Homo sapiens: one gene and its partners. The protein of the gene in region 2 purifies or fractionates together with the protein of the main gene of each other region. This does not show direct contact. Each region holds a gene or a part of one and is shown on either strand. Other genes may lie near its edges.

What was found.
Region 1: the proteins of ARPC1B (region 2) and DBN1 purify together in Homo sapiens (affinity purification with mass spectrometry; 2 studies listed by BioGRID and IntAct, with this or other methods). This does not show direct contact.
Region 3: the proteins of ARPC1B (region 2) and CORO2B purify together in Homo sapiens (affinity purification with mass spectrometry; 2 studies listed by BioGRID and IntAct, with this or other methods). This does not show direct contact.

Annotation. Positions count from the first base shown.
Region 1 is NC_000005.10:177,460,022-177,463,765, forward strand, and holds part of DBN1 (drebrin), read right to left. Parts: intron 2,406-3,744; exon of another isoform or gene 2,211-2,405; intron 683-2,210; coding exon 623-682; intron 535-622; coding exon 411-534; intron 1-410. UniProt on the Homo sapiens protein: Actin cytoskeleton-organizing protein that plays a role in the formation of cell projections. Required for actin polymerization at immunological synapses (IS) and for the recruitment of the chemokine receptor CXCR4 to IS.
Region 2 is NC_000007.14:99,384,586-99,388,329, reverse strand, and holds part of ARPC1B (actin-related protein 2/3 complex subunit 1B), read right to left. Parts: intron 2,629-3,744; 5' UTR 2,616-2,628; coding exon 2,552-2,615; intron 1,646-2,551; coding exon 1,541-1,645; intron 292-1,540; coding exon 69-291; intron 1-68. UniProt on the Homo sapiens protein: Component of the Arp2/3 complex, a multiprotein complex that mediates actin polymerization upon stimulation by nucleation-promoting factor (NPF).
Region 3 is NC_000015.10:68,581,993-68,585,736, reverse strand, and holds part of CORO2B (coronin-2B), read right to left. Parts: intron 1-3,744. UniProt on the Homo sapiens protein: May play a role in the reorganization of neuronal actin structure.

The DNA of each region.
Region 1 (3,744 bases), on a different chromosome or scaffold from region 2:
GAAGCAGCACACTGAGAAGCGGAACGGGGACACCTGGGTGCAAGCTCCGGGAGGCTCCCTCAGGCCCGGGGCAAGAGCCCAGCACGCATGCATTCCGGCCTTCCAGGCCAGACCTAATTCACCCCAGCCGAGCTGCTCCCCGTGGCCAGCGCTGTGCCTCAGCCCATGCCAGAGCTGCCCCACAGGCCCTAGCACTCCCCACTGTTCAGCCACAAGCGACTTCACCACCATCCCTGGCCCTTCTTGGGGTCCTGCCACCTGGGAAGTGGTGGGCGGATGCACGCTGGATGAAGGGTCTCGCCTTCTCCAAGGGTTGCTTGGGCAAGGCCTCCCTTCTGAGAGAGTCCCAGAGAGGCTCAGGGCCGCAACCTGAGGAGTGGGGCCGGACGGGGGGTGGGGCCTAGGACTACCTGGTCGATGGTTGAAGGGCGAGGGTACATCACAGCTGCCCGCAGAGGCCGATGCGACTCTTTCCTGCTGCTTGAAGAACTCCCTTGGGTTGTCAGGCCGCTGGGCAATAATAGCTGCTGCCTCCTGAGGGCACGAGGAAAAGGTTGGGGCTGGGCCAGGCAAGCTGAGATAGCCCTGTCTGCCTCACCTGGCTGGTGCCCCCAGCTCTCACCTCCACCTCCGACTCTGACTTCTTCATGTGGGTCTCTTCCTCCTCATCCCGATGGTCACCCTAGAAACCAAAGGGACAGTGTCTGGTGCACCTACCCCCCACAGGGGCTTTTGGCCTTCTTTTTTACTGTATTTTATTTATTGATTTTGTTTTTAAGACAGGTTCTCGCCCTACCACCCAGGCTGGGGAGCAGTGGTACAATCACGGCTCACTGCAGCCTCTGCCTCCTGGGCTCAAGCAATCCTCCCACCTCAGCCTCCCGAGTAGCTGGGACTACAGGTGTGCACCACCATGCCCGGCTAATTTTAATTTTTTGGTAGAGATGGGGTCTCCCTATGTTGCCCAGGCTGGTCTCAAACTTCTGGGCTGAAGGGATCCTCCTGCCTTGGCCTCCCAAAGTGTTGGGATGGATTACAGTCATGAGCCACCAGTGCCCGGCCTTCTGGCCTTCTTTTTTTTTTTTTTTTTTTTTTGAGACGGAGTCTCGCTCTGTCGCCCAGGCTGGAGTGCAGTGGCGGGATCTCGGCTCACTGCAAGCTCCGCCTCCCGGGTTCACGCCATTCTCCTGCCTCAGCCTCCCAAGTAGCTGGGACTACAGGCGCCCGCCACTACGCCCGGCTAATTTTTTGTATTTTTAGTAGAGACAGGGTTTCACCGTTTTAGCCGGGATGGTCTCGATCTCCTGACCTCGTGATCCGCCCGCCTCGGCCTCCCAAAGTGCTGGGATTACAGGCGTGAGCCACCGCGCCCGGCCCCTTCTGGCCTTCTTACAGCCCCCATGCTTCTTTCGCAATCTGGCAGGAAGGGTTTCAGAGGTGGTACCTCTGCCCCGTCAAACCCTGTCACACAGCCCCTCTCTTCCCTCAGGGCCCTCAGCCACCTCATCTCTGACCTGCCAGGCCTCTGGGCACCAGGCTCACTCACTCACTTGCTCATCCCCATATCTAAGCAGGTGCCTAGGGCCCTCCAGAAGTGCTCCTTGTTTTGCAGATAACTTCTTGGACCTCCTACCCTAGTGCCGGGGCCACCATGCTCCCAATGTTGCTGCCTGGACCGTGGCATCATGGTCCAGCCTTCCTCACTGCTACCTGCCTTATTTGCTCTCCATAGGCCCTGAAAGGACCTTTCCAAAATGCGGATCAGACCATGATTTTCCTGAGCTTAAAATCCCTCAGGGGTTCCCATGAGCCACAGCAAGCACTGGCTAAATATGACCCACAGATGGCTTTTGTTTTGCTGGTATGATATTTTTAAACCATGTTCATTAGTTACCACCACTTAAAAACCAGGAACTTTCATACTGAGATGAGGGTCCCAGTTTCTCTTGAGGTGACAGAGCCCTGGCGACATCACCTGCAAGCCCGGAGCAGCCATCACCGGGGCCTCGCCGCAGCCCCCTTAAGACAGGCGTGTGCCACCCGCTCACCCCCGGCCCCACCATCGCCTACTGGCTTCACCTGCCCACTGCACACGTTGTTTTGGGTGGGCAGCGCCCGCACTTGGCCTACGTCCCCCACCCCTGCCTGACCTAGCCGTCACCTCTCCAACACCACCCCCTGCCGGCCCCCACCCCAAGGCTCCCACATACTGTGAGATGTAGACATCAAGTCCTCAGCACGACGCAGTCAGTTCCCAGAACAGGCACACCCGTTCCCACCTCCAAGCCTCAGCATGGGAGACTGGCCTCCCTCCCAAATGCCTGCTCCCCACCCGGGGGCCAGGCCCTCTGGTTTCCAGCTGCAGCGTGGCCACTGCTTCCTGGGGAAGGACCTCTGAACAAGAGGCTTGTTCAGGTCATTTCCTCCTCTGGGTCCCCACAGGGTGCTCCTGGCTTCCACCACGATGACACCACATCCTAAGTTCCTGTTTCCGGAGGCACCTCCCCCCTCCGCTGTGAGCAACGCAGGATGAGGACCGGGGTCTCCGGGTGGGTGGCCAGCACAAGGCGGGCGCATGTTTGCTCAACTGCACTCACACACCAAAGGCTTCTTAGTCGGTGTCCCCTGCTGCTCAGGTGGCAGCTTGGGCAGGAGGGGCTGCTAAGGTGGTGAAGTCCCAGGGCTGCTCTGTTTTTGAGCCTATAATCTAAAATTTTAGCTTATGTCAGGAGCACTGGGAGAAGGGCCCTTCGTAGTATCCCACCTCAGGAGGGCTATCACCTCAGTGATAACTTTGTGACCCCCAGAATGAAGTCTAAACTCCTCCTCTGCCCTTGCTCTCCTTTCCCAATCAAATCTCCCCCACTCCTCAGCCCACGGGGTTCCAGTCAGCCTAGGCTCTTCACCTTCCCATGAGCCTGTGTCCCACCAGCCTTTGCTGCTCTGCCCACTGCCTGCTGTAATCTCAGTTGGTTCCTCTGCCTTGTTCAAAGAAAGGACCAGAGGCAACTACCACAAAGGCTTTTTTTTTTTTAATCTGAGACAGAGTCTTTCACTCAGGCTGGAGTGCAGTGGCGAGATCTCGGCTCACTGCAAGCTCCGCCTCCCGGGTTCACGCCATTCTCCTGCCTCAGCCTCCCGAGTAGCTGGGACTACAGGCGCCCGCCACCACGCTCGGCTAATTTCTTGTATTTTTTAGTAGAGACGGGGTTTCACCATGTTAGCCAGGATGGTCTCGATCTCCTGACCTCATGATCCGCCTGCCTTGGCCTCCCAAAGTGCTGGGATTACAGGCATGAGCCACTGAGCCCAGCCCTCCACAAAGGCTTTAATAAACTACCAACCATGTGAACACTGAAACAAGTAAGGCCCAGAGGGAGGAGAGAGATCAACGCACTAACCACATGGGTCAAAGCCACTGCTGTGCCTAAAGCATTTTCAGATACACGGGAGCTCCCCTGCAGGCCAGGCAAAAAGGGAACTCAGATATGGAACACAATTCGTAACAGGGGAGAGAAAGCAACAGCTCCTTAAGCCAAGAGAAAGCATTTCACAGTGCTAAATCCCAAAGTCTCTCGCATATTCCCTTCCTTAGAGGACCTGAAATTGAAAGGGTACCACACTGACCTGCTAGAATGTCCACTGTCACTCTCACGTGAACTATACTTGAAGGGCCAGATGGGACTATAAAATAATGGTAAGCTCCTTCAGACTTTACCTGAAATGTTGATAACTGGTGAAAAT
Region 2 (3,744 bases):
TTCCCGGGGACACTCTAGTCCTGCCCCCGGTCCCTAACAGCCCACTCTGGCCCTGCCTAGGTACCCACCAGTCATTCTCCTGCTCGAAATAACAGATGGAGATCACACGAGAGCCGCTGCCCACAGCAAACTTGTTCTCGTTGGGGGCCCAGCGCACGCAGCGGGCAGCCCGGTTGATCCGCAGGATGACCAGCGTGGGCTTCCATGTGCGGCCCTTCAGCGTCCACACGTAGGCGTTGCGGTCTGTGCCGCAGGTCACAATACGGTTACTCTCGGGGGCCCAGTCGATGCCTGTGGGGGGATGGAGGGAACACAGGAGGCTGATGACACTCAGGCAGAGGTGGCTGTATGGTGGCCACATGGGAGAGGCTGAAAGGCCACCATCCAGGTGGAAGCTGTATCTGCCCAGCAGGCACTTTTTTTTTTTTTTGAAACAGAGTCTCGCTCTGTCACCCAGGCTGGAGTGCAGTGGCATGATCTCAGCTCACTGCAGCCTCTGCCTCCCAGGTTCAAGCAATCCTCGTGCCTCAGCCTCCTGAGTAGCCGGGACTACAGGTGTGTACCACCAATCTTTTTTTTTTTTTTTTTTTTTTGAGACAGAGTCTCGCTCAGCCGCCCAAGCTGGAGTGCACTGGCACGATCTCAGCTCACTGGAACCACCATCTTCCGGGTTCAAGCAATTCTCACATATCAGCCTCCCAAGTAGCTGGGATTACAGGCACCCGCCATCATGCCTGGCTAATTTTTGTATTTTAGTAGAGATGAGGTTTCACCATGTTGACCAGGCTGGTCTTGAACTCCTGACCTCAGGTGATCCGCCCGCCTCCGCCTCCCAAAGTGCTGGGAGTACAGGCGCAAGCCACCGCACCCGGCCTCTTTCTTTCTTTGTTTTTATTGCGACACAGTCTCGCTCTGCCATCCAGGCTGGAGTGCAGTGGTGCAATCTCAGCTCACTTCAACCTCCGCCTCCTGGGTTCAAGCGATTCTTCTGCCTCAGCCTCCAGAGTATCTGGGACTACAGGTGCGTGCCACCACACCCGGCTAATTTCTGTATTTTTCAACATTTAGTCATGTTGGCCAGGATGGTCTCGAACTCCTGACCTCAAGCGATCCACTCGCCTTGGCCTCCTGAAGTGCTGGGATTACAGGCATGAGCCACTGCACCCGGCCCAGCAAGCACTTTTTACTGAGATCCAGTGCTTATTTAGAGTGACACCAGGGGGCACTCCTAGAGCTTATGAGGGAGTGTCAGAGCCCTCCATGCTATCAGCAAACATGCTGGAGGGCAAAGCCAAGAGGCAGAAAAGATGGGTTCTTGGTCATGTGGAGCTGCTGGATCAAGCCTCTCCTGAAGCCCTCAACCCTGTGAGTTTTTGGTAACATGAGCCAACACAGTCCCCTTAAAATTGAAGCCAGTTTGAATCCGGGTTTCACGGTGAGTGGGCAGATGCTCCACAATGAGTGGCCATGCCCTGCCTTGCACCACCCCCCCAACCCACCACCTCCTTTCAGGACGGTGGTCCCAGCCACCCTGACATACCTGTCACCTGCCCGTTGTGCTCCTTGAGCTCGTGCACCTTGGTCCATTTGGCACCGCTCTTTTCATAGATATGCACCTCATGGTTGTTGGGGCAGATGGCAATCTCTGAAGGGGAGATGGAGGGAGATTGAGGGGCCCTCTCCATGACTGCCCTCTGCCAGGACACACTACACAGTGCACCTAGGCAACAACACCTCACCTTTCATGACTCAGTCTCTCCTCTTCTGCCTTGCAGGGGCCCCCTGAAGTCCTTCAGGCCCTGCTAGGCCACCCTGTCTTCTCCTGGAACTGGCTGTCCTTTACTCGCAGCAATGAACCCTGGGACCTCTCCCCACCCTATTGCTCTGGCCAACCAGGAACCCTTCGCTGCTCCTGCTGACACCTCAGGGCCCCTGCACCTGCCAGCCCCTCCCCAGCTGGGGCACAGTTCCCTTCCTCTCCCCCTCTGGGTCTCTGGGTAAATGTCAAAATGTCATCTCCTCCGAAAGGCTTTTTCTTGGTCACTTTTTCTTTCTTTCTTTCTCTCTTTTTTTTTTTTTGAGACAGAGTCTCGCTTTGTTGCCCAGGCTGGAGTGCAGTGGTGCAATCTCGACTCACTGCAACCTCCGCCTCCTGGGTTCAAGCAATTCTCGTGCCTCAGCCCCCCGAGTAGCTGGGATTACAGACACCCACCACCACGCCCAGGTAATTTTTGTATTTTTAGTAGAGACAGGGTTTCACCATGTTGCCCAAGCTGGTCTGGAACTCCTGACCTCAAGTGATCCACCCACCTCAGCCTCCCAAAGTGCCGGGATTACAGGCATGAGCTACCGCAACTGGCCCATTCCCTCCTTAAACTTTAACCCAGGAGGCCCCTGGTCAGCTGGAAGACCCAGGGGTGAGGCCAGGGGACAGCCACATGGAGCCCATGGTCCGGGGGCCTGGCTGCTCCAGAGTCCCCATGTGTGCTCTGGCTGGTCCCCATCCCAGGAGGTGGAAGCAGCCACCCACCGGCCCCCAGCAAGCACTCACGGGTGCGGTCCTTGTTCCAGGCGTGGCAGCTGATGGGCTCCACCAGGAAGCTGTGGTAGGCCATGGCGGCTTGGCTCCTGTGCCCGAGAGAGGAAGAGAGAATCCACGTCAGCCCCAACCTTGCCCCTGACTTCACCCATACCAGGCCCCAGATGATCCTCACAGGCCTCACACCAGGGAGGCCCCTCAGTTTAGAGGGGCAGCAGTTTGCAGAGAGGAGCAGCAGGGGCCAGCCCTGGCTCCCAACTGGCCTGACATGTTGCTTCCCCTCCTGGGGCCTCAGTTTCCCTCCTTATAAAAGGGCAGCTTTCACAGGATGTCTCTGAGGCTCCAGGGACAGGGTGGAGGAGACGGTACTACAGGGGAGATGCTCCCTGGGGCGGGGTGGGGTGCTAGGACTCCAAGCTGGACAGGCCCCTCACTTGTCATCTGTGCCTCGGTTTCCTCATAGGATGGACGACCCCCCCCCCCCCACCCAACTTCCCCTGCCCCATTAAGGATGGGATGAAGATGAAGTCATCCAGGCCAGGCCCGGTGGCTCATGCCTGTAATCCCAACACTTTGGGAGATCGAGGCAGGCGGATCACTTGCGGCCAGGAGTTCAAGACCAGCCTGGCCAACATGGTGAAACTCCGTCTTTACTAAAACTACAAAAAATTAGTCGGGTGTGGTGGCGGGCACCTGTAGTCCCAGCCTGAGGCAGGAGAATGGCGTGAACTTGGGAGGCGGGGCTTGCAGTAAGCCGAGATCGCACCACTGCACTCCAGCCTGGGCGACAGAGTGAGACTCCGTCTCAAAAAAAAAAAAAAAAAAAAAAAAAAAAATTAGCCAGGTGTGGTGGCACCTGCCTGTAATCCCCACTACTCAGGAGGCTGGGTGACAGAGCAAGACTCATCTCAGAAAAAAAAAAAAAAAAAAGAAATGAAGTAATCTCATAAACCACCTAGAAAGGTGTCCAGCACATGGCAGTTGGCCCTGCCGTGCCCAGAGCCCTGGTCTTCCCCCACACTGCTCAGACGGGGAGAAGGGAGGTGGCCGGTCTGCAGGGGCTCATGGCTGAGGCAAAGGCAGATATTTAACAGATACATCCCATTCTCCATCCAGACATCCACTGGCTGCACCCAGGGCTGGGAGGAGGCACAGGGCTAGGCGAGGCCTGGGTGATGGCTCTTGGGGAGGCCCCAGGGTGACCC
Region 3 (3,744 bases), on a different chromosome or scaffold from region 2:
CCCTCAAGGCAACCAGCATTTGTCCTGCACATCCTCAGTGGCAGGGCCACAAACACAACAGACAATAGCCCACTGTGTTGTAGGTGGGGGGTTGGTGGGGAGTGGAAGCAGAGTACGATCATGCCCCAGGACCAAAGGCCTGGAAGTGAGATGAAAGTGTTCTCTGGAGTCAGACAGCCCAGGTACAAATCCCTGCTCCCCACCCATTCATTCAACCTGTGACCTTGAGCCGTTCACCTACTCTCACTAAGCCTCACTCTCCTCCTCTAGAAAATGGGATGGATAATAGAATCTACCCCATGGTTGTACAGAGTAAATGCGATCATGCGTGCCCAACGCCTGCTTAATAACTGTTATTATCATGATGATGGTGATTAATCTTCATGGGTTGTGGACCATTATGTGATCGGATTGAAAAGGTTCTGGCTCAAAGCCAGAAGATCTGGGCGTGCATCCCGCCTCTGACCCACATTAGCTCTGGGACCAGGGTGTGGTCATCTCTCCACTCAGACACTCTGTTTATCCGTCCCTAAATAGAGGGGACCGTCCCCACCATGACAGAGCTGATGGGATTCAGGGAAGTAACCCATGTATGTATTCTGTACGAAAGACAGCCTGAGCAAACCTGGGAGCCTCCCATTGCTACATTAATTAATTGGAAGGAGGTTGCCAGCCAGAAACCAATTACAAAGTCCCTCCAGGGGCCTCTGCGGGGGCAAAAAGGAGGGATGAGGAAGGGCGGTGGTGGCTTCTCCCCCACTCCCCACCCCCACCCCACTTGTGCCTCCTTAGCAGCTGGTCCCGCACTCCAGGCCCACAAAGGAGAGGCTCATTCTAAACAGCTACTTTTCATGTGGAAGCCACTGGATTTGCATCTGTCCTTCCCTGGCAAGGCCTGCCCCATGCCAGCTGCCCCAAGCTCCCCAGGCTGCAGGGTGCTCCAGGACCCTGGGCCTGAGCCTGCAGGGCCTACAGGGGAAGGAATGGGAACCCAATGGGGCTGATCAGGAAAAGAGGGAAGGAGACAGGGCTGGGCGCAGAGAGAATCTGCACACGTTCTCATCTCCTGGACACCAGATAAGCTCTGTGGCCAGGCATATCCAAATCAGAGTCAGGGCTGCCCGGGTGCCAGGAGCCGAGACTCCACCAGCCCTGGCCCTGGCGGAGGCTGTGTCTGCTTCAGCTAGCTGGCCTGGGAGAGAAGTGGAAAAACTCACTCCATCCCTGAGCTGCCAGGACATTGGCCCAGCCAGCGCCCACACTCCCAACCAGCCAAACTCAAGTGTGTGCCAACCTCACAGGGCTGGCCACTGTGGGGTGATTCTGGGAGCCCTGGAGAGCCTCAAACCCTTCCCAGCTTCCTCTAAGAACTGCCATAGGTGTCAAGGTGGCAGTGCCTCGGGGGAGGGGAACACAGGGCCTCTGGGCACAGTCCAGAAGAAAGCACCTGACAGCGCTTTTCTGGAGAGTGAGCTTCATTGCCTAGAGGGAGAGACAGTAAGGAAGGAAAGAGCCTGCATTCATTAGGCACTTACAGTATGCAGGCAAGGCAAGAGGTCTCCTGGCTCATGCCCACTGGACCTCGAGACTCTGAACTCAAGGCTTTGGCCTTTCCATGTCCTTCTCCTCTAAGGTCCTGGATCCCAGGGACTGTGGCTAATGCCACTGTTTTCCTAATGCCTCACACAGGGCCTGGCCCAGAGTAGGTGCTCAGAGGGTGCTGGCTAAATGAACGAATGACTGCTAGCCGCACACCTCCCAGCATGAGAATGCTGGATATCTGGAAGAAGGCCGGGAAGGGAGAGGAGGCATAATGGGTGTGTGGGCAGAGCAGGCAGAGCCCTTGCCCACCCGCAAGTGGGCTCCCACCCGGGAGCTGGGTCTGTGCTGGTACCCCCGCTTCCTCTTCACCAAGGCTTCCTGAGGTGCTGGCTCTCTTACTTCCTCTCCCAGGGAGACCCAGACAGGAACGAGGTGCTGGGATGTAGAATGTCTGGAGGTTCAGGTATCTCCTGGGTACCTAGATTCTGCGTCAGGGAACTGGAGGCAGAGGGGCCTCATAATCCCCCTCGCCATCTGACTGTAGGTATAGCAAGGCTCCTATGGACTTTGCTCCCCTGCCCCACATCCTGTCCCTCCTCCCACTCCCGCAATGCTTCTTCCATCTAGGGCAGATGGTGTCCCACAGAGGGAAATCCAGGCACCAGCAGGACAGGAAGGGGCGATGCAGTGGGGTAAGTGGAGTGGGGCCAAAACATTTGTGCCTGCTCAGAATGCCCCAGGACCCCTTGCCAGGGCAGCCGGGTGGAAAGAGCACTGACCATGAGTCAGGACCGAGGTGCCAGCCCCTCCAGCCTCAAACTTACTGAATGACTTTGGGCAAGTTACAACTTCTGCTCCCAGCGTCTCAGTTCCCTCATTTCTCAAGGGAAAGGGTTGGGTGATTTGCCCGCTCCAAAATTTTATTCTCCTATGGGTGACTCTGTAGGGGCCCTAGAGACACATGATCTTTGGAAAATGCAGGCCTGCTATTACCTGGGCAGGATAACATCATCCTCAGTCCTTTCACATTCAGCAGGAGCCACTGGCTCTTATCAGCAGGCTGTGCCCTGCTGGAGCTGAGGCAGGAGAGGGAAGGCTGCCTGCAGAAAGAGGGGCCAGGGCACAGTTGATCGTGCTGCCCACGGACCTACAATCTATCTGCTTAGCAGGGAGGAGCATGTTGGCATGAAAGGTCTTCTCTTTTCCCACACTCCCTCTCCTAAGGCCTTCTAAGGTGCAGCAGGCAATTGTGCTGCTCAGGGTACTTTGCTCCTGGACCGCTGACCCCCCTGAGCCAGGCTCAGGAAGGTAAAAAGCATTCAGCTCACTAGCGTCTAACTTAACACAGCACACCTCAAAATAGGGGAGCCTGGTCACTATAAGCCACCTCCTCCCTTACCTGGAAGACCCACCTCTGGGTCACATCACAGCCAGCAGCCAGGAAATCACCCTAAAGGGCCTCTGAGCAGTACAAAGCGGGTTGCAAGGGCCTAGACTTTAGCTCACAGGTTTTCTTATAGCCCATTAACTTGTACTTTACACACGACTCTATTAATGTACCTTGTCCTCTGCTTTTCCAGTTGATAGCAATGTAGAAACAGATATTTAGAACTGGAGAAGCACTGCTAGTCTGGTACATGACTGAGATGGAACAGAACAAGAAAATTATACAAAGCAGTCAGAAGAACCTGAAGAATAAAATCAGCTGGAGCTACTCGTCTCAGGGAAAGCAGCCTTGGCTCCCTCGCCCCGAGCTGCCCTAGGAAGCACGTTGGACTGAGAGGAGGCAGCACCTTGACCTCCTGTGCATGCTCAGGGCCCTGCATCAGAGCCTTCCTTCCCTCCACTCTTTCTTCCCTTTTTCTGGCTTTCTTCTCTTTCTCATCCTATAAAGAAAGTAAGGTAACTTACTAAATTACATACAATCAAATAAAGTTTAAAACATAGCCAGGAGAAATGCCACAGGGCTAGAAGTTCTCCGGGGCTCTGTGTTCCTAAGGCTAGTTAGGGCAGGAGTCCTTCAGAAACCACAGGGTTTGCCGGCAGCTTTAGCAGCTGTGCCTCATGGTTAAGGGGGCAAGGGGATGTATGAAAGAGAGGCGGAAAATGGAAAACAGGCTCACCTCCTCTACAGAAGTGCTACTGAGGATCTAGCAACTTGCCATCTGCTTTCCTCTTCTCCACTTGCCAGGCCTCTCTGAG